Linked DNA regions of Homo sapiens. The protein of the gene in region 1 purifies or fractionates together with the protein of each later gene. This does not show direct contact. Each region holds a gene or a part of one and is shown in the gene's direction. Other genes may lie near its edges.

What was found.
Region 2: the proteins of SETD1A (region 1) and OGT purify together in Homo sapiens (affinity purification with mass spectrometry; 4 studies listed by BioGRID and IntAct, with this or other methods). This does not show direct contact.
Region 3: the proteins of SETD1A (region 1) and BOD1L1 purify together in Homo sapiens (affinity purification with mass spectrometry; 3 studies listed by BioGRID and IntAct, with this or other methods). This does not show direct contact.

The regions. Positions count from the first base shown.
Region 1 is NC_000016.10:30,960,734-30,967,753, forward strand, and holds part of SETD1A (histone-lysine N-methyltransferase SETD1A), read left to right. Parts: intron 1-533; coding exon 534-804; intron 805-2,699; coding exon 2,700-2,821; intron 2,822-3,360; coding exon 3,361-3,590; intron 3,591-3,878; coding exon 3,879-4,728; intron 4,729-4,867; coding exon 4,868-5,653; intron 5,654-6,086; coding exon of another isoform or gene 6,087-6,150; coding exon 6,151-6,327; intron 6,328-6,767; coding exon 6,768-6,855; intron 6,856-7,020. UniProt on the Homo sapiens protein: Histone methyltransferase that catalyzes methyl group transfer from S-adenosyl-L-methionine to the epsilon-amino group of 'Lys-4' of histone H3 (H3K4) via a non-processive mechanism.
Region 2 is NC_000023.11:71,528,234-71,536,121, forward strand, and holds the start of OGT (UDP-N-acetylglucosamine--peptide N-acetylglucosaminyltransferase 110 kDa subunit), read left to right. Parts: upstream 1-4,870; 5' UTR 4,871-5,066; coding exon 5,067-5,103; intron 5,104-7,888. UniProt on the Homo sapiens protein: Catalyzes the transfer of a single N-acetylglucosamine from UDP-GlcNAc to a serine or threonine residue in cytoplasmic and nuclear proteins resulting in their modification with a beta-linked N-acetylglucosamine (O-GlcNAc).
Region 3 is NC_000004.12:13,624,708-13,632,374, reverse strand, and holds the start of BOD1L1 (biorientation of chromosomes in cell division protein 1-like 1), read left to right. Parts: upstream 1-4,649; 5' UTR 4,650-4,787; coding exon 4,788-5,030; intron 5,031-7,667. UniProt on the Homo sapiens protein: Component of the fork protection machinery required to protect stalled/damaged replication forks from uncontrolled DNA2-dependent resection.

The DNA.
Region 1 (7,020 bases):
TTTTTTTTTTTTTTTTTTTTGAGACGGAGTCTCGCTGTGTTGCCCAGGCTGGAGTGCAGTGGTGTGATCTCGGCTTAGTGCAACCTCTGCCTGCCAGGTTCAAGTGATTCTCCTGCCTCACCCTCCTGAGTAGCTGGGATTACAGGTGCCCACCATCACATCCAGCTAAATTTTTTTTTTTGTATTTTTAGTAGAGACAGGGTTTTATCATGTTGGACAGGCTGGTCTTGAACTCCTGACTTCTGGTGATCCGTCCACCTCATCCTCCCAAAGTGTTGGGATTATAAGTGTGAGCTGCCACACCCGGCCTAGTTTGCACATTTCTGTTCTTAATTCTTGCTGTTATTCTGTGGTGAGAAGAATTCAGGGAAAAGGGGTCAGGTCTGATGGATCCCTTATTTTGGGCCCCTTCCCTTGCCCCTCACTTTCCCGGATCTCTCTCTTGACTTCATGGAGCTTGCTAAAGTTTCCCGAAGGACAAAGGAACAGTGGTCAGTGTTGAGACCCCATACCAACTCCTGTTCTTTCCCCAGCTGGACGAGTTCTATATTGGACAGATTCCACTGAAGGAAGTGACTTTTGCAAGGCTGAATGACAACGTGCGGGAGACCTTCCTGAAGGATATGTGCCGTAAGTACGGTGAGGTGGAAGAGGTAGAGATCCTCCTTCACCCCCGTACGCGCAAGCACCTGGGCCTGGCCCGTGTGCTCTTCACCAGCACTCGGGGCGCCAAGGAAACGGTCAAAAACCTCCACCTTACCTCCGTCATGGGCAACATCATCCATGCCCAGCTTGACATCAAAGGTGAGGACTCCTCTGCCTGCCACTCAGGCTTGGCCTCCAGCGGAGGTTGTACATGCAAATGCCTGTCAGGGTCAGGCAGGCGCCCAGGGTCATGATCTGAAACTGCTGGGGCCAGTTGTGTTTCTGAAATCAGATCAGATTTTAGAGTGGAATTATGGTACATGGATTTTTGTGTGTGTGGTGTCTCCAGCAAGGTCGGGCAATAGGCCATAATCAAGCACATAACTATCTGTAAAAAAAAAAAAAAATCATATGAAGGGTTGTACTAGGTAAGATGAATAGATTGTAGTAAATCAGCCCAGGTCAGGTTGGTTGCTTGGTTGGTTTTTGAGACAGGATCCTGCTCTGTCACCTAGGCTGGAGAGCAGTGGCGTGATCTTTCCTCACTGCAGCCTCCAGCTCCTGGGCTCAGCCACCCCAGCCTCCTGAGTAGCTGGGATTATGGGCATGCACCACCACACCTGGCCAAAGTTTTTTTGATTATTTGCAGAGATGAAGTCTCACTACACTGCCCAGCCTGTTTTTAATTTTTTTTTTTTTTTTTTGAGATGGAATCTCAATCTGTCGCCCAGGCTGGAGTGCAGTGGCACGATCTTGGCTCACTGCAACCTCCACCTCCCAGGTTCAAGTGATTCTTCTGCCTCAGCCTCTTGAGTAGCTAGGATTACATTTATGCGCCACTACGCCCGGCTAATTTTTGTATTTTTAGTAGAGATAGGGTTTCACCCTGTTAGCCAGGCTGGTCTTGAACTCCTGACCTCAAGTGATCTGCCTGCCTCGGCCTCCCAAAGTACTGGTATTACAGGCATGAGCCACCATGCCTGGCCTCTTTTTAATCTTTCTATATGCTATTCTATAACCCATATAGGTTTTGGTGCCAGATTCTCAGAAATACTGGATTTTCTGGGTTTTTAGGTTTGGAAATTTGAGATAGAGAGTAAAGGAGCTGTGAACACAAGCGAGGTGGTCTGGGCTTCTGTGTTGAGTGATGGGGAGCAGTGGGGTCTGTGGCGAGCTGCAGATTGCAGTATTGTCTGGAGGAGGCAGCCATTAGTAGGCACTGGCCAGTTTGCAAGTGGAAATGAGGTTTAACATTCTTGAATTTGGTTTGTAAAAGAAAGCCAGGGCCGGGCATGCGGTGGCTCACGCCTGTAATCCCAAGACTCTGAGAGGCCAAGGTGGGCAGATCACCTGAGGACAGGAGCTCGAGACCAGCCTGGTCAACATGGTGAAACCCCATTTCTATTAAAAATAACAAAAATCCGGACGTGGTGGTTCATGCTTATAATCCCAGCTACTCGAGAGGCTGAGGCATGAGAATCACTTGAACCTGGGAGGTGGAGATTACATCGTGCCACTGCACTCAAGCCAGAAATTTGGGTTTTTGTGTGAAATCTCATGGTTTTTAAATACCATGTTTCTTTCCTCACAAGGTGTTTCTGAGGTGTTCACTCCACAGCTCCTGCAGGCTCCGTTAGTCCCCCGGTTGCTGTTCTGCATGCTTTAGTTTACAGGATAAAGAGCATGGGGTGATCGAGCCTCTGGGTTTGAATTCCAATTTTTCCAATGACCAATTCTGTGACTTTGTGTAGGTCGCTTTTAAGCCTCTAGAACAGAGGTACTGATGCTTCCCTTCTGGTGATCCAACATGGTAAAATAAGTAGAAGTGTTTTTGATAAATCGTGAAGTGTCATAAAATATGTTGTTTGTGGTAGTTTAGAGGTAGAGATAAGGTAGAAGGTCCCAAAGGTAGAGTTATGGTAGGAGAACTGAAATCCTGAAACCCAGATTCCAAGAAATTGTAGGAAACTTGAGGCCTGAGAAAGCAGGAATACCAGATCAGGAAGGAGTTAGTATCTCCATCTGACAATTGGTTCCCATTTCCCTCCCTCCAGGACAACAACGAATGAAATACTATGAACTAATTGTCAATGGCTCCTACACCCCTCAGACTGTGCCCACTGGGGGCAAGGCCCTGAGTGAGAAGTTCCAAGGCTCGGGTGCAGCCACTGAGACGGTGAGAAGTTTGTGGCTACCACAGCCCCTAGCCATGTGGGCATGGTGTCCGGGTGCCCGGAGCAGGAGCAGTCTTCGGGAGGTTCCGGGCTTTCCCGTTAAACAAAGAAGAGCCAAGCAAAGCTGCTGAGATGCTTTCAAAAGACAGGGAACTAGGGGCCAGGCACAGTGGCTCACGCCTGTAATCCCAGCACTTTGGGAGGCCGAGGCGGGTGGATCATGAGGTCAGGTGATTGAAACCATCCTGACTAACACGGTGAAACCCCATCTCTACTAAAACTGCAAAAAATTAGCCAGGCATGGTGGTGGGCGCCTGTAGTCCTAGCTACTTGGGAGGCTGAGGCAGGAGAATGGCATGAACCCGGGAGGCGGAGCTTGCAGTGAGCCGAGATCACGCCACTGGACTCCAGCCTGGGCAATAGAGCGAGACTCCGTCTCAAAAAAAAAAAAAGGGAACTAGGATTCCTGGTTTGGGAAAGGGCAGGTCTCAAGTGGTGTTTGAGCCCATTCCTCTCTCCTTGCCCTGCTCTGTCGCTCTAGGCCGAATCCCGCCGCCGCTCTTCCTCTGACACAGCTGCCTACCCAGCAGGCACCACTGCGGTGGGCACTCCTGGCAACGGCACCCCCTGCTCCCAGGACACAAGCTTCTCCAGCAGCCGACAAGATACCCCATCTTCCTTTGGCCAGTTCACACCTCAGTCCTCCCAAGGAACCCCCTACACGTCTCGGGGCAGCACCCCCTACTCTCAGGACTCTGCCTACTCCAGCAGGTACAGAGCAGACCCCGCCTGGGGCCCCGCCCGCAAAGTCTGGGAGCTGCCACTGGGAAGAAGATGCCCAGAGTCTGTCTCCAAGAGGGAGTTGGAAATAATTTGTCCTAGTTTCTCTGTGGATTCAGTCAACAAATTGCTGTCCTCGGGGAACACACTAGCTAGGAACCCAACATATAGCTCTTCTTTTGGAGGGCAGCATAGAGGGGCTTTGGGCCCTGGGACCCAGTACGCTGTGGTTTGGTCATAGAGAGCTGAGTCCAGCTAACTCCCCTGCTTCTTCTCCAGCACCACTTCAACCTCCTTCAAGCCCCGGCGGTCAGAGAACAGCTACCAAGATGCCTTTTCCCGCCGCCACTTCTCTGCATCTTCAGCCTCCACAACCGCCTCCACGGCCATCGCCGCCACCACTGCAGCCACTGCCTCATCCTCCGCCTCTTCCTCCTCATTGTCCTCGTCCTCCTCGTCATCCTCTTCCTCCTCGTCCTCTCAGTTTCGTAGTTCTGATGCAAACTACCCAGCGTATTATGAAAGCTGGAATCGCTACCAGCGCCATACTTCCTACCCACCACGCCGGGCCACACGGGAGGAACCCCCTGGAGCCCCTTTTGCTGAAAATACAGCTGAGCGCTTCCCACCTTCTTACACCTCCTACCTGCCCCCCGAGCCCAGCCGGCCCACCGACCAGGACTACCGGCCTCCTGCCTCAGAGGCTCCACCCCCGGAGCCTCCAGAACCTGGTGGAGGCGGGGGTGGAGGAGGGCCCAGCCCTGAGAGAGAAGAAGTTCGGACTTCCCCCCGCCCAGCCTCCCCTGCCCGCTCTGGCTCCCCAGCCCCGGAGACCACCAATGAGAGTGTGCCCTTCGCCCAGCACAGCAGCCTGGATTCCCGCATCGAGATGCTGCTGAAGGAGCAGCGCTCCAAGTTTTCCTTCTTGGCCTCTGACACAGAGGAGGAGGAAGAGAACAGCAGCATGGTCCTTGGGGCCAGAGATACAGGGAGTGAGGTGCCTTCTGGGTCAGGGCATGGGCCCTGCACACCCCCTCCGGCCCCAGCTAATTTTGAGGATGTGGCACCTACAGGGAGCGGGGAGCCAGGGGCTACCCGGGAGTCTCCCAAGGCAAATGGACAGAACCAGGTGAGGTTGGGGTCAGCCAGAGGAGGCACCTGGGCTCTGGGAGTCAGGGTTGGGCCTAGGGGAGAGGGAAGGGAACCAGATGAGAAAGTAGGGCTTGGGTCAGGCAGAAGCCTTCTGTGACCCTCTTCTGCCCCCGCAGGCTTCTCCATGCTCTTCTGGAGACGACATGGAGATCTCCGACGACGACCGGGGTGGCTCACCCCCTCCGGCCCCGACGCCCCCTCAGCAGCCTCCGCCACCTCCCCCTCCCCCGCCGCCTCCTCCTCCCTACCTGGCGTCCCTTCCTCTTGGTTATCCTCCCCACCAACCTGCCTACCTCCTCCCACCCAGACCTGATGGGCCGCCGCCCCCTGAGTACCCCCCACCTCCTCCACCACCCCCGCACATCTATGACTTTGTGAACTCCTTGGAGCTCATGGACCGACTTGGGGCTCAGTGGGGAGGGATGCCCATGTCCTTCCAGATGCAGACCCAGATGTTAACTCGGCTCCATCAGCTGCGGCAGGGCAAGGGATTGATTGCCGCCTCAGCTGGCCCCCCCGGTGGGGCCTTTGGGGAGGCCTTCCTCCCGTTTCCACCCCCGCAGGAGGCAGCCTACGGCTTGCCGTATGCTCTATATGCACAGGGGCAGGAGGGCAGAGGGGCATACTCACGGGAGGCCTACCACCTGCCCATGCCAATGGCAGCCGAGCCCCTGCCCTCCTCCTCAGTCTCGGGAGAGGAGGCCCGGCTGCCACCCAGGGAAGAAGCAGAGCTGGCAGAGGGCAAGACCCTCCCGACAGCAGGCACCGTGGGCCGTGTGCTCGCCATGCTGGTCCAGGAGATGAAGAGCATCATGCAGCGAGACCTCAACCGCAAGATGGTGGAGAACGTGGCCTTCGGAGCCTTTGACCAGTGGTGGGAGAGCAAGGAGGAGAAGGCCAAGGTGAGGCCAGCGCCTGGGACCGGGGAGCCCTGGGCTTTGCAGGAGGAAATGGGCCTCTGGCTCCTCCAGGCTGCACAGCTCAGAGGAGACAGGTGATGGAGGCGAGTGGAGAGAGGCCGCAGGCCCTGCAGGCCACCCTGGGTGGGCAGGGGAGTTGAGGGGACAGAGAAGCAGGCACAGATGGGCCTGGGAGGCAGCAGAGCTTTGTCCTGGCTCCATTCCTTGCTGGCTTGCAGTGGACAAGGCCCTTAGCTCTCTTCAAGCTTTGGTCTTCCATTTTGCCACTTGTGAAGTGGGAATGGTGGCTATTTCTTAAGACTGGTGGGCGAAATGACAGACTTTTGAGAAAATGCCGTGCGGGGGCTGGGACAGGTGTGACCAAGATATGGAGCAGCAAGTAGATGCGTTCTGTATTCCTGGGGTCCGGGAGTAGGTCTCAGGCAGGAGGGAATGCCTGGGTTCTGGGCGCTGGGGCTCAGCCCCACTGCTGCCTGCAGCCATTCCAGAACGCGGCCAAGCAGCAAGCCAAGGAGGAGGATAAAGAGAAGACGAAGCTGAAGGAGCCTGGCCTGCTGTCCCTCGTGGACTGGGCCAAGAGCGGGGGCACTACGGGCATCGAGGCTTTCGCCTTTGGGTCAGGGCTGAGAGGGGCCCTGCGGCTGCCTTCATTCAAGGTACTCAGAACTGTCGTTTTGTGGGGTAGGGTGGGGAGAGGGAGAGGGGGCCCCCTTCCTTGGGGTAGGGGTGGTCAGGAACCATGAGTGTTTGAGTTTTTTCTTTTTTTTGAGATGGAGTCTTACTCTGTTGCCCAGGCTGGAGTGCAGTGGCCTGATCTCAGCTCACTGCAACCTCCGCCTCCCGGGTTCAAGCGATTCTCCTGCCTCAGCCTCCCGAGTAGCTGGGGTTACAGGCACCCGCCACCACGCCTGGCTAATTTTTGTATTTTTAGTAGAGCTGGGGTTTCACTGTGTTGGCCAGGCTGGTCTTGAACTCCTAACCTCAGGTGATCTACCTGCCTTGGCCTCCCAAAGTGCTGGGATTACAGGAGTGAGCCACCGTGCTCTGCCTGAGTGTTTGAGCTCTAAACAGGCCCCATCTTTTCCCCATCCCCCAGGTAAAGCGGAAAGAGCCATCGGAAATTTCCGAGGCCAGTGAGGAAAAGAGGCCTCGTCCCTCCACTCCTGCTGAGGAAGATGAAGACGGTGAGCAGGGTCAGGCATAAGGAGAAGGGGTGTGCTGCGTGGGTTCTGATGGGAGAGCAAGAGGTAGGGATGAAGGGGTCAGGTCGTCCTGAGGGCACAGCCAGGTGGAGGTGCAGGGTTGAAATGCAGCAGTTCTGAGAGGTATGGGATGCACCAGGTAGAGTT
Region 2 (7,888 bases), on another chromosome or scaffold:
TGCCTGTCAGTGTATGATTGCCCCCAGCACCATTATTATTTTGCAGGTTTTTTCAGCTCCTCTGTAAGGCTTGTCACAACCATAGTGTCACTACTTTGGACAGAATCATCAACTCTTGCAACCCCAGGAGGACAGTCAGGATTAGAATTCAAATGACAGTGGGTACTTTCAGACACACACATAGACAACTGCACCTGTGAGTCCACAGAAGTTCCTTTAGATTCTGTATTGGAGGTAGTAATGATGAAAGTGTCTTCAGGAATGTCTTCATGGCTTGCTCTTGGGCTCTGCATTGTAACTCCTTACAGGTACCAATGAACAAGCCATTCAGAGATGGATCCACAAAGATCTCTGGAGCAACGACCAGGTCCTGCTCTACCCGATTCTCAGCTTTGGGGATAGAATTCCCAGAAACATCTGTGTCCGGAGTTGGTTCCTTCCAGTGGGTTCTTGGTCTTGCTGACTTCAAGAATGAAGCCGTGGACCTTCGCGGTGAGTGTTACAGCTCTTTAAAGGTAGCACAGACCCAAAGAGTGAGCGGCAGCAAGATTTATTGTGAAGAGCAAAAGAACAAAGCTTCCATAGCGTGAAAGGGTACCCAAGCAGGTTGCCAGTGGGGCTGGGGGCGGCCAGCATTTATTCCTTTATTTGTCCCCGCCCACATCCTGCTGATTGGTCCATTTTACAGAGTGCTGATTGGTCCATTTTACAGAGTGCTCTTTGGTGTTTTTACAATTCTTTAGCTAGACACAGAGCGCTAATTGGTGCATTTTACAGAGTGCTGATTGGTGCATTTACAATCCTTTAGCTAGAAACAGAGCGCTGATTGGTGCGTTTTGTTTTTGTTTTTTTTTTTGAGACAGAGTCTCGCTCTGTCGCCCAGGCTGGAGTGCAGTGGTGCAATCTCAGCTCACTGCAACCTCCGCCTCCTGGGTTCATGCCATTCTCATGCCTCAGCCTCCCAAGTAGCTGGGACTACAGGTGCCCGCCACCACGCCTGACTAATTTTTTGTATTTTTAGTAGAGACGGGGTTTCACCATGTTAGCCAGGATGGTCTCCATCTCCTGACCTCATGATCTGCCTGCTTCAGCCTCCCAAAGTGCTGGGATTACAGGTGTGAGCCACTGCACCTGGCTGGTGCATTTTTACAGAGTGCTGATTGGTGCATTTACAATCCTTTAGCTAAACACAGAGTGCTGATTGGTGCGTTTTACAATCTTCTTGTAAGACACAAAAGTTCTCCAAGTCCCCACCCAACCCAGAAGTCCAGCTGGCTTCACCACTCACTTCCATGGGAGAACTGTCCAGACAATAGCATGACACCCTTGCAAAGGATAAAGCCTCTCATCTAAAGGCATAGAATACTGAATATAGTCTTGAGGCATAAGTCCAATAAGTACAGGCACATGTTCCTTGAAGTGAAGATGCAAGTCTCCATTCTGAAATTTTGAACTCTTTACTTTGTTCTTTGTATGCAGCTTCAGGCTGAAGATAGTGAAAATCCGTGCCAGACTTGGATTGGAAGAATGAACCAAGGCTTTGAGTCTCTTCGTCTCATCTCCGTTTTGATACGTGTCTCCTTAGTTTGTAAGCCAAGGAGAGGACTACAGTGAGGATTGTGGAGGGAAGTGGACCTTATTGGTCTTTGAGCTCTCACATCTTTAAAGACTGTTGGTGCTGAGAGAAAAAGTATCCTCATCTGGCAGAACTCCCATAGGGTGTGCTCCCCTTGCTGTTCTGCTTTTGTTTTGCAGAAAGCTGCCTTTTTCAATGTACTCATTAGGCTTTCATTGTTTTTTCCTTTTTTACCTTTTTCATCTTTCACTGTTGATATCACAGGTGGCCATATCTTTACCAGTGCAGCTACCAAATAAGAAATCATCTTTTCCACATTCACTAGTTAGTGATGGTTGTTGTACTACCATGAAATCAGTTTCTTCTTTACTTTTATTCAGGTTACAAGATTTCTGGAAGGTTTTAAGATCAATTTTAATTAGTCTTTGTGACTGGTTACTTCATCCAGGGGACCAATTTCTCTCTGGAATATTAGTCCCGCACCCCTGGAGAGCCTGTGCGGCTGCATCTCCCTCCGGAGGTGGTTCTGGAGTTGGTTCCTTTTGGTGGGTTCCTGGTCTCGCTGACTTCAAGAATGAAGCCACGGACCTTCACGGTGAGTGTTACAGCTCTTAAAGGTGGCACGGACTCAAAGAGTGAGCAGCAGCAAGATTCATTGTGAAGACGGAAAGAACACAGCTTCCACGGTGTGGAAAGAGACCCGAGTGGGTTGCTACTACTGGCCTGGTGGGTGGGTGGGTGGGTGGGTGCGGAATGTGGCCAGCTTTTATTCCCTTATTTGTCCCCACCCATGTCCTGCTGATTGGTCCATTTTACAGAGTGCTGATTGGTCCATTTTACAAGGTGCTAATTGGTCCATTTTACAGAGCGCTGATTGGTCCATTTTACAGACTGCTGATTGGTCCATTTTACAAACCTCTAGCTAGCCACAGAGCACTGATTGGTGTGTTTTTACAGAGCACTGATTGGCGCATTTTACAAACCTCTAGCTAGCCACAGAGCGCTGATTGGTGCGTTTTACAATCCTAGCTACAGAGTGCTGATTGGTGCATTTTACAATCCTCTTGTAAGACAGAAAAGTTCTTTAAGTCCCCACCCAACCCAGGAAGTCCAGCTGGCTTCTCCTCTCACATCTATGTATTTCTTTGGCTTCATTTAACCTTTGGAGCCATTTTTTTTCAGCAGCAGTGCAACAGCAGCCACCAGCCCGGGTCTCATCCAGCGCTGGTGCTACTGCTGTGAAATGTGTGTTGTTCTGAGCAGCTGTATTTGTGATACTTTGTTACACAGCAGCAAAAAAAGTAATGCAACATCAGTGGTGTTACTGGGTGACAAAGTTTGGGATTGGGGTTGAAGACCCAGCTGATTTAATTATAATTGGTTCTAAATTTAAAATTGCACATAAAAAAAACCCAGAAATCAATGTGAACAACAATAAAAAACATACAAAAGCACTTCCTTCAATGTCTAGATCAAGGCTTCTTTCTCACCCCCTCCAACCTTACCTGTTTCCTCCCTAGATATTCATAGAGAGTAATATATTTTATCATCTAAATAGTCTTCTGTATTGCTCTCTAGTAGCTTTTTGTGTCTACCTAACTAGGCTTCAGATTCCTTGAGGGCGAGGATTTCTGTTCATTTTTGTGCCCCCCACAGTGCCTTGCACATAGAGACTCTAGTAAATGTTACTTATTGGCTGAAGAATTAGGAACATGACCTGCATTTAACAACAAAAAGAGTTTTTGTTAATTAGCTAGCACCCGCTCATCAGCAAGGCCTAAACATCTGCCAGTGGAATCTGAGAAGTCTCTTCTAAAAGTTGAAAAGCTGAGTTTACTCATTACAGATAGGGAACTTGTAGTAGGTGTGTGTGTGCGGGGGGGAGGTTTTACCAGTTAAATCAAATTACAAGAGGTTGGTGCTCAATTTTCAGGAGAGTTTGTGTAGTGATTTTTGTCTTTTTCACTGCATGATGTGACTCTTGATTATGGGATGGAAGAAATTAGCATTATGAATTTTCTCTGTGCCATTTCCATAATTAATTGTTTGTTGACTGTTTTGAAGAAATTTAAGCAGAATTTGAGGACTTAGTTTTAAAAAATGTAGTGAAGGGGCTAGGTAGCAAAAACTTTTTGAAGAAATTCATTGACCTGCTTTCTTAGATCAAGGACTTTTTGAAATAAAAAGGCTCTCAGAGATCCAACTTGTAGCCTCCAGTGGCTTGTAATACTTTCTTGCTGATGTGGCAAGCTACCTTAAGTCGTTTCTAGAACAAGAGGTGAAGTATAAATACCAATGTGACAAAATGTCTGAACAGTAGACTTGAAACTGCAGGAAGATCGTAAGAACCGATTTGTTCAAGGAAGTAGAGGCAATTCATGACTCAATCTAGACGTGTGGTTTAGGCAGATGGCAAGTGAATTCATTTATCATTGTTGATCTGCTTTGAGCTCAGTGGAATCGCCGACTGTGACAATGTGCAGAGCTAGCTGGTGGAAATGAAGTCACAACTCGAGGAGAGTCATGGATTTTGACGAACGTGAATCACCTTTAACATTTTTATGGCTGCCTTCGGAGTGCAAACGCCCAGCATGTCCCTGAGTTATTAAACATTTGCCCTATCACCGTGGGCAGGAGTATTCTGAATACCAAAACGATTTTGAAATTTCAGGCTATACGGCCAACATTGAAGGTGTCTGCATTCAACTGGCCCTGTGAAAGCTTCAGTCTTTTTCATCGAAGTGCTGAAATCGATGGCCGAGTCACAATGAAGACGGGCTCAAATCGGAACCCTCTCGCTCCTCGTTTTGAGCAGCTGTCTTTGAGAGGCAATCTTCTGAATTGACTGGCTCAGAATTGATCCGTGAGAGTCGTAACCATCCGTTTTTGTACGAATACAGTTGATAAACTTTTTTAGACGCCTTTGGCATTTATGTTTAAAACGACACCACCTGCTAAGTAACAAACACTCTTCTTAATCGCGGTGGCAAAAACGTATCCGTCCCGTGTGTGTTTGTTTTTACCCTTCCGCTACACTCTTAAGAAACTTGGCCGCTTCCGCCCCAGAGAGTGCCCTAACCACGAGTCGGGTTGACAGGGCTGCTCGCATGCGCGGTCTCCACCGTGGTGTTTGTCGCAATGGGCGCTGCGCGGAGGACTACATGGAATCTCGACTTTGCAGCTTGAAGTCATTTTGTTGGCGGCGCTGGTTACCGGCTACCTCCGCGCGGGCACTTGATTGTAACAGAAAGTAGTTCCGGCCCATGTTGTTTCGGCCGAGGAGCCGTCGCCGCCATTTCAAGACCGTACTAGGTAGATGGTCAATTAGAGTTCCCAGGGTTTGAAGCCTGTAACTGCTGCCGCCGCTCAAGCCCTCCAGAGCATTGCTACGGCTGCTGCCCTTGTACTACTACCTCCAAATACGTTCTTGCTGGTAGTGGCGGCAGCAGGACCAATTACCTCTTTTTTGCTCTCCCTCGAGAAGCTCCAGATGGCGTCTTCCGTGGGCAACGTGGCCGACAGCACAGGTACCGGTGTCCCGTTCTACCTTGGCAGATGCCCCCTTGGGGTCTCGCGCCGTCCTCTACCTTGTATCACTCCTTCCCTCCCTTCCCTCGAACCATCCCCATTACATCAGTGACATTGCTAAGCTTTTCGTGGTCTACTGGCATCTGATCACATCGGGTTTTCCGCTGTTGTCCGCTTCCCGAACATTTCCTCCTCCTCCCTTGCTTGCTTTTTGCTGCCTTTCTTGCTTTGTTTTTATTTCGTAAATGTTCTAGCATTCCACTCTCTCCAGGCGCTTTTATCACACGTGCGCGCTTAGAATGTCGTGGAATGGACTGCATTGGAATCCCTGCCCTTTCACTCCTTTGCAGCGGTTTTCTCCCCTAATTCCAGCTCATCGCCTCTCCTTTTTCCCCTCCATCTCCTCCTTCATCTCCCCCCCCAGTCTTTTCCCCTTAGCCAGATTTGGTCCTTCTCTGCCAATCTAGGGCGGGGGTGCCGTTCCGATGTAATCATATCCTCACTTTGCATCACCCGAGGACGATCAAAAGCTCGTCGATGGTGCCACAAGTCACCTCGAGAAGAGGGGACATTGAGCAGCACCCTGCTAGGCAGTGCCTTTCTGGTGTTCTTTCGGTTGAGCGGTCCCGGTTTAGATTGGAAATTTCCAGGGGTTTCCTTTGCCATCGCCCAATTCCACCGCTGCCCTCAGCCTGGATTTCCCACCCTGTCCGCGGGGAACCACACCCTTCCCTTCGCGAGGTTGCCAGCCCTGTTCACTTCCTATCCTTGGGGGAGAAACCACCCCGATGCTGCTGCTTTGGCGTTGACCACCCTGCCCGCCCAATTCTCGCTTTGTGTTACTTTCTCGATGTATTCCTCCGCCGCCGCCTCTGGGTCTGCCATCCCCATTCTTCAGCCCAGTATCTCTTTATTCACAGGGTGTAATATTCTTTTAAGTTTCCATCCCTGCTTGAAGAGTTTGTAAAGCAACTGGAGTGTAGCTGCACAAGTACAAGGCGGTTGCCCTTTTAGACACTTCAGTCGCGAGCATTTGGTACTGAAAATACGAAAACAACCAAATTGTAGGAGTGTCCTTCAGCTGCCTTTCCATATTGAGGCGATTTGGGCGGAAGGGGGTGGGGAATTGGGCTGCGCTTCTGAGGTTTCCCGCGAGGTTATTTTTTGGTTGTTTCTCAGTTGAGATGTGTGGAGGGTTTTAGCTACTGTTCCTGGAAGTTGTGCTGTAAGTAGTAGGTGAATCGTCAATAGTGTCTTATCCGTAATTGTAGGGAGTGGGATTAATAATTAGTCCGTGCTCCTCTCCCCACGTCTCCACCGTGATTTTCAAAGGTTTAAGATTCTGTACTGGATTCTGTACTAGCTTGCCCTTTTTAATGTGTTATTTATTTGAGAAAGCTGTCGTTTCAAGTGTTAAAATAGCAGATAAGCGGCATTGAAAAGTGACAAAGTAATGTGTGAAAACAAGGAGCTAGGAAGTTCTAGAGACTTAGCTAAAATGTAATTTTAGTTTCTATTAAAGATATAACCTCTCCCAGATGTGGATGCAAGTCTCAATGCTCTTTGTGTTGGTGGTCAGCTGTGCATTCTGTCAGGAAATTTACTTTGCTTTCCTCAGTATCCGGAACGCTCATCAGCTCTGATGATTGGGGAGCTGGGCTCAAATTTGAACTAGTCACCTTAACCTTGGTAGAATTAAATAATTTGTCCATGGTTTCCCATTTCAACCAGCTAGTGAAGTGCTACGGTCGAATTCCCAGTTTAAGTATTTACAGTTGTGACAAGCAGTTTTTTTTTTTTTTTTTTCCCTCTCTGGGCTTTAGCTATATCCTTTAAAGATCTTTATGTATCTGGATTAAGTCACTTGCAGCGAAGTGCTTTTATTTATTCATTATGTTGCGCTTTATCAAATATATTTTAGCGTCCATCCTCCCTCCCTCCCAACGTTTTGACCATTGCAGTTGCAGGTAACTGCCTGGCTTATATAGGCTTGTTTGCAATGTCTTAATCCTTTAGTCAATACCAGAGCTGTTTGGAAAATGTTAGTGCTAAACCAACGTGGGTGGGATTTAGCCAATTTAGTCTCCTTTTGAGTTTGGGATGGTAGAGGAGCAGTGTAATCTTGGGTCTTTATTTAAAATGTTTGATGACCCCTTTAACTATTTTGGCTGTTGTCAAATGACAAACATCTTGTTTATCAGCTGTTTTAAAAATAGCACTTTGACTTTTTGGTTTTTCCCTTAGGCTCGTTTCTACTTGTCCTTTTAAAGAATTAAATTCTGAAATATACAAAAATTGATATAATTTAAAGAATTAACACATCTGGTGTCCTCACTGAGGTTAAGATTGATAGATTGTTACCAGTACTCCACCTCAACAAATCCAACCTGAAATATGGCACAAAATATTACGTTTCCCAATATGTTATTCTGATATTATTAAGTCTTTGTGACCTTGCAAATCACACGTTTAATATTTTGTTTCTGTATGTTAACTAAGGTATAAGGAATAATGTTCAGTGAATCCTTAGATGCTACCTATGATTTATAATTTAAAAGTACAAAGTATTTTTGGTCATAAAATGTAATCTCATATGGAAGTAAATATTCCTTTCTAGTTTGGGAAAGAAAGTATTAATGGGTGAATTCTAAAAATGCCAATTCTGCACTTGATGTTAACTTGAAGATATACATAACGTGCAGAACACTCTAGTGCTTTACATAGTTTCAAGCATTTCCATTTTTAAGTTAAATATACCATATTTTTACATTTTTTTGGTTTACA
Region 3 (7,667 bases), on another chromosome or scaffold:
ATCTTGACTAAAAATACAAAAAATTAGCCAGGCATGGCAGGGCATGCCTGTAGTCCCAGCTACTCAGGAGGCTGAGGCAGGAGAATTGCTTGAACCCAGGAGGCGGAAGTTGCAGTGAGCCAAGATAGCGCCACGGCACTATGGCCTGGACGACAGAGTGAGACTCTCTCTCCTGTCTCAAAAAAAAAAAAAGGTGATATTGTAGACATCAAGAGAATGGCTACTGTTCAAAAAGGAATGCCCCACAAGTGTTACCATGGCACAACTAGAAGAGTCTACAATGTTACCCAGCACGCTGCTGGCATTGTTGTATACCAACAAGGGCCTGATTCTTGCCAAGAGAATTAATGTGCGTATCGAGCACATTAAGCTCACTAAGAGCCGAGATAGCTTCCTGAAACACATGAAGGAAAATGACCAGAAAAAGAAAACAAAGAGAAAGGTACCTGGGTTCAACTGAAGTGCCAGCCTGCTCCACCCAGGGAAGCACAGTTTGTGAGAACCAATGGGAAGGAGACTGAGCTGCTGGAATCTATTCCCTATGAATTCATGGCAAAATAAGTGTTAAAAAAATAAAAGACCTCTGGACTGCAAAAATGTTTCTCTTCGGCTGGGCGAGGTGGCTCATGCCTGTAATCCCAGCACTTTGGGAGGCCCAGGCAGGCAGATCATGAGGTCAGGAGATCGAGACCATCCTGGCTAACACAGTGAAGCCCCGTCTCTACTAAAACTACAAAAAAAATTAGCCGGGCATGGTGGCGGGCACTTGTAGTCCCAGCTACTCAGGAGGCTGAGGCAGGAGAATGGTGTGAACCTGGGAGGCAGAGCTTGCAGTGAGCCAAGATCGCACTACTGCACTCCAGCCTCGGCGACAGAGCAAGACTCCGTCACAAAAAAAAAAAAAAAAGTTTATCTTCATTGAGTAGAAGTGTGGTGTCTTCTCCCTTAAAGAAATATTTAAAGCACATTTTAATTGTGTCCTAATTCATTATGTAATGTCTTTACTGTTCAAATTTAACGTATTTCTTGCTGAAAAATGTGAGGTAGCTTATTGTGGAACAAATTACTCAATTGGTTAGAAAATGGCAAGATATTATTTATGAAATATTTGTACTGGTTTGAATATAGTCCCTCTAAATCATCATGGAAGAAATAAAATAATTTACCAAAAAAAAGAAATTATATACTCTTTTCTAGAGAGACAATCAGGAGGAAACACAGCAAAGACGTCATTGGTAGGAAATGCTGACTGCTTAAAGCAGTCTTTTAAAAAGATTTAAATGTATGCTTTTTGTTGTTGTTTTTTGGGTATTTAAAACACTCATCCCTAGGACCTGTATTCATACGAAAAGAAAATCACCTTGGAACAGCCAAGGCAGTGCAGATCGGTGACCCAGATTCTTTTCAATGTATCTAGAATGTTTTTCAAGGCTACAAAATTGTTCAAGTTACATTGCAACCAGTATAATGTGTCTACCCAGTGTAACTTGAACTCAGAGATACAAAGATGTATCTTTTAGATTCAGTGTGTGTTATTCAATAAGGCAATTAGGGCACATTTGAGAAAATGGATTGTGAACCATTATAAAGTTCTCATCTTCTTGCATTGTAGAAAATATTTAAGATTTTCTATATACTGTTCACAAAACAAATTATTTATTAGCCACTGACCCAATTCATTTTTAGCAGTAAATACTTTATTGTCTCATTACTTTTTTAAACTTGGACATTATGCCTAATTAAATTTGTAAAGTTTTTCAGAACTTTTATGGATGATTTCTACTTAGTTATTCCCAAAAAGCTGAATAAATTTGATTCACACATCCAAATATACCAAAGAAATACCATGTCTTTTTATCATACCACACACTTAAAAACTTATAAACTTAGAATATAGCAACATATATTATATTGTATTGTTGGTAATTAAGTAAATGTTATAGTCTCACCTTTTCATAACTAATTTTTATTTTTTTTTATTTTTTTTTTGAGACCCAGAGTCTCACTCTGTCGCCCAGGCTACAGTGCAGCGGTGCGATCTCGGCTCACTGCAAGCTCCGCCTCCCGGGTTCCTGCCATTCTCCTGCCTCAGCCTCCCAAGTAGCTGGGACTACAGGCGCCCACCACCACGCCTGGCTAATTTTTTGTATTTTTAGTAGAGACGGGGTTTCACCGTATTAACCAGGATGGTCTCGATCTCCTGACCTCATGATCCGCCCATGTCGGCCTCCCAAAGTGCTGGGATTACAGGCGTGAGCCACCGCGCCCGGCTCATAACTAATTTTTAAAATGAATAAAACATTTATATTTTACGCTATTTTAGTCTTGTAATCTTGACTGCTTTTTTTTTTTTTTTTTTTTTTGAGACAGGGTGTCACTCTGTCACCAAGGCTGGAATGAAGTGGCACCACCATAGCTTATTGCAGTCTTAACCTCCTGGGCTCAAGCAATCCTCCCACCTCAGTTTCTCAAGGTCTGCAACATCACACCTGGTTACTTTTTTGTTTTGTTTTGTTACTGGTCTTGAACTTGTGGCTTCAAGCCACCCACCTGCCCCAGCCTCACAAAGCTCTAGGATTACAGGGGTTTGCTGCCACGCCCAGCCTTGACTGCATATAGTAATTAATCTTTTAAGATTCATATCCATGACTTTCTCCTCTCTGCTATCTTCATCAAACTCCTCAAAACACACAGGATACTCTGAATTGAAACAATGAAGTCAAATTGTTTCTGATTTAAAGTAAATCTGATTTGTCTAGTTTGACAATGAAAATGGGCTCTGTTAATTAGGTTATAAGGTAAACATTTAACATTCTTAACAAACCTTTTTTTTTCTTGTTTTTGAGAAGGGTCTCACTCTGTTGCTCAACCTGGAGTGTACTGGCCCCATCATGGCTCACTGCAGACTTGACTTCTTGGGCTCGGGTGATCCTCCCACCTAATCCTCCCAAGTAGGTAGGACTACAGGTGCACGCCACTACACCGCCTAATTTCTTTTATTTTTTTGTAGAGGTGGGGTCTTGCCATGTTGCCCAGGCTGGTCTTGAACTCTGGACTCAACCGATCCTCCCGCCTCAGCCTCCCAAAGTGCTAGGATTACAGGCGTGAGACACTGTGCCCAGTGACAAAGATTTTGAACTTGAATGAGCTAAATCTGCAGTTGCAAATTTTGACAAAAACATAATTTAACCACCTGATAACAAAAATAAATCTTATCCAAAACTATTTATGAAAATGAAAAATGTTTAGATATTCTCCAAACTTTCAGTATATCAGGTGAAAGGTACACCTCATTGAAAAAATCAGGTCTAATTCATAGTCATTTGGTATCTTGGTAAAACCTATCTGGTATATTTCCCAGAATCTGAAAGAGTGAAAAAATAAGGATTAAGTAAACAAATCCTTTGGCAAGCCAGGTGGTTTTCAGCTCTTTGCTTTCCATAAAATAGAAGGAGGGCCTAATTGAAGTCAGCTCATAGATAATCAAATCTAATTTTTTGAGGTCAAGAATTGAATGATATTGCTACAACAAAACTCTTCCATTCCTAGGCACAGTACTTGTTTATATGAACAAGGTTTCTCAGGGCACACAGCTATAAAAATTACAAATAGGAATAGAATTGATGCTCAACCCTTCTTTTCCTACTAATAAGATATATTCAGCCACAGATGTAGGAACTTTAAAAAGCAACAATATGCATTTTTCAATAAAGTTACACACACTATTTAGTAATTATGAAATTTTCTAATATTTATGTTGCTTTGACCACGTACTAATAATAATTTCAAAGATGATGCAGTCCAAAAGCAGGTGATTTGCTAGCTGTGTAATCTTACTCAACATACTTAATTTATCTGAGCCTTGGTTCCCTGATTTGCAAACTGGGGACAGTAATCAGACCTAGCTCTTAGTGTTTGTCCAAAGATTAAATGCGTTAATACATGTAAAAGCACTTAACGCCACGCTTGGTACATAATATGTGCTATAGATGTTTTACCTGCTATAATCATAGTAATCAATAGCAAATCTCCTAAAAATAAAAGCCTGTCGATTTGTCTTCACAGATAGGAAGAACGGGCTGGAGGGATCGGATCTAATCCACAGGCACACTGCCAGAAACAAGGGACCCCCACGGGGAAATGGTATGTGCAGGCAGAAGAGAGACAGAAGGAACTTGGAGCTACCTGCTGGGACAAGAATAGTGCAGGATCACAGGCTAAGAACGAAGAGGGTTGGGCGAAGTTAGAATGAGCAGATCCACGTAGGGTTCGCATTACAAATGTCTATGGATCTCTATGCACTGCTCCGGGAAACTGGAGCAAGAGAGGCAGGCCTAAAATGCCGTCGCGGATGAAGCGGGGCCAGAAACGCACTGCCCCCGCTCAGACCTAGGGCCCCAGGTGTCGCGCGGGTCGAAGCCCTAACCTCCAGGGACTCCAGACCCCTGCCGGTGACCTAAACCCCACAACCCGCGACCAGCACAGTCTTGTCGTCTCCGTCGCCACAGTCGCCGCCACTTCCGGCGCAGCTCGGCCTCGCGAGGGCGCTTGCGCCCGGCGACGGTCGAAACTGGCTCTTCGCGGCCTCCGTCGCCGGACTTTCGTCAATGTTGTCACCGTCTTTTCCTCCTTTCCCCCAGTTCCCTTTCACTTCCGGGGTTGCTCTGGATCCGCTGGTTCCGTAACAACATCCCGTTGGCTTCCCTCAGGCGGCGGGACCAGTGCAGCCGCCGCCTCCCAGGATCGTCCGCCGGTCAGGGCCCTTGCCCTCCCCGGCACAGGCCACCATGGCCACCAACCCACAGCCGCAGCCGCCTCCTCCGGCGCCGCCGCCTCCCCCGCCGCAGCCGCAGCCGCAGCCACCGCCGCCGCCGCCGGGCCCCGGGGCTGGCCCCGGCGCGGGCGGGGCGGGCGGCGCGGGTGCGGGCGCCGGGGACCCGCAGCTCGTGGCCATGATCGTGAACCACCTCAAGAGCCAGGGGCTCTTCGACCAGTTCCGCAGAGACTGCCTGGCCGACGTGGACACCAAGGTTAGGAGCGCGCCGGGTTTGGGGGTCTGCGAGGGAAGGGGAGGACCCAAGGGCGCGCTTCTTTTGCAGTGGCTTCCTCTTGGAGCTGCAGCTGTGTGCCACGGACTGTGCAAAGCACAGAGTGTTCATTCCTTAGCGTGTCCTTTGGTTCGTTTTACCGACTAGTGTTTAAGTACCTACTACGTGCCAGTCATGGTTTCGGCACAGTGATTACCCCGGTCTGATGAGCAAGACTAAGGCATTGTTCTTACAGGAACTGGTTTGGAAACAGTGGCGCTAACAGTAGCCAGTTTTGTATTCATTCTCATATCTGATGATTTTACTTTGTATCGAAGTTATGTTTGCCTTCTTTCTTGAAGGTTTCTGGGCGGTAAGGGCCTTTATCCTTTGGAGAAATGACTAAATGGTAATTGAATCAAGTTATGTGTAATATGCTTTGCTGGACATCGTGGGGGTGGGAGCGCAAAGATAAGGAGGCAAACCTGAGACAGGACTTTAGTATTGTTTCTAGCAGTGATTGCCTGATTTAGGTAACTTAGGCCATGTCACCATTCTAAGGTAAGAAGGGACAGGAAGGTGGGGTAGAGAGAACCGAGTCATTCAGTGGAGAAAAGATGCAGGAGAGGTGACAGCAGATACTGAAGTGGAGAAAGGACAGGAAAGAGAGCAGATTCAGGAGAGTAATGTAGAGAAGGGAAAGGACAGCAACAAGGTTCCCTGTCCAGAAAGAGAGGCTGGAAAGGGGAAGGGATTTTGTACCAAATGTCAGAGTGAAAGGGACATTAGCAGGAACAAGTAAACTTAGCTGGATTGGCAAAGAATTAGCCAAAGACACCAGGAAAGAGCAGTCAGTGAGATGGATGGAAAACCACAGTACAGTCTAGAATTCTGGAAGCAGAAAGCATGTTGGAAAATTAACTGGTTTGTAGGGGTTGTTTTTGTCTGCTTGTTAAATCTGGTTGGGTCCATTGGATTGGAGTTTTGATGAAATGAGGGTTTCCTTTTTTTTTTTTTTTTTTTTTTTTGAGACAGAGTCTCGCCCTGTCGCCAGGCTGGAATGCAATGGCGTGATCTCGGCTCACTGCAACCTCCGCCTCCCGGGTTCAAGCGACTCTCCTGTCTCAGCCTCCCAAGTAGCTGGGATTACAAGCGCGTGCCACCACGCCCTGCTAATTTTTGTATTTTTAGTAGACACAAGGTTTCACCGTGTTGGCCAGGATGGTCTCGATCTCCTGACCTCGTGATTCGCCCAGTAGGCATGAGCCACCGCGCCCGGTCGAGGGTTTTCTCATAGTATGTTTAGTTGTTCTGAGGAGCTTTGTATCTTTGAGAAATGCATGTTTACAACATCCACAGTTTCTTCTAAAGCTTTCAGGTGAACTGCACACAGTTCCACTATGTCTTCTGGGGAAACTCTTGAATATCCTGGTACATCTTCCTTTATAAGGACTCATACTGGGCCCACTATGTAAAACGTGGTTTTTCGGGATATTGGAGGTTTTGCACCACAGAGAATTCAATTCACTTGGGAGTGTTCATCTATTTAGGAAGTATAGTTTTTTTTACTTTTGTCTTCAGGAATATGCACTGCTACCTTTTAGAAATAATTTCTATTGCCTTTATTATTTTTGTTGTTATTTAATGGGAAAAGGTTAGACATGGCCAGGTAAATGTTATCAAATAAAGTTAGTTATTCGTATTCAACAAGTGGAATTTTTACTTTGCTGTTCTCAGAAACCCATGAATCTGTGTGTTCTCAGAAACCCATGAATCATTATGTATACAAATTAAAAATTGTAATGTACTGCTGCAATGTCTGAGGCTCAACTTTTTTATTATCCTATTCCCACAAAATGTTATTGGTATGTGTCTATAATATCCCTGCCAGACCCTTCAAAGTAAAGGATTAAAACCTTTTTTGGAGGGAAGGAGGGAAGCACAGTATCTCTGATCATCTAATGAAAGTTAGGACCTTCTCTCAAGAAAAATGCGCAAGTAACACATTAAAACGCTGTTTTTCTACTTCAGAATGGTCAACTATAGGCAATTTCATGAGAATCAATCTAATAACATATACAGTTTCAGTGAGTTCAGGAACCATGGAATAAGAACCTATTTTAATGTTCTTAGCCTCTTTTTTGAGGTCAAGAATTGAATGATATTGTTACAACAAAACTCTTCCATTCCGAGGCACAGTACTTGTTTATATGAACAAGGTTTCTCAGGGCGCATGACTATAAAAATTAGAAATAGGAATAGAATTGATGATCAACCCTTCTTCTAGTAATAAGACATATTCAGCCACAGATGCAGGAACTTTAAAAAGCAACAGTATGGCCAGGCCCGGTGGCTCATGCCTGGCCACCGTGGGCCAAAGTAGAAGATTCCCTGTTCATGCAAAGAACCATCACTTTAATGGAATCCTTGAGTTTCATCTGCCACTTGAACCTCAAAGACTGACCTGCTTTCTGTCAAAAAGTCTTAACTTGTAGCATATAGAGTTATAGTGGATTATGTCTGTCACGTGCATATTTAAGAATGAAGACATTTGATACCTGCCAGGTGCTAAGAGCAAAACTGTCATCCAGTTTAGTGTGTTTAAACCAGGATGAGAAGTACCAAAGTCTGCTGCTACAC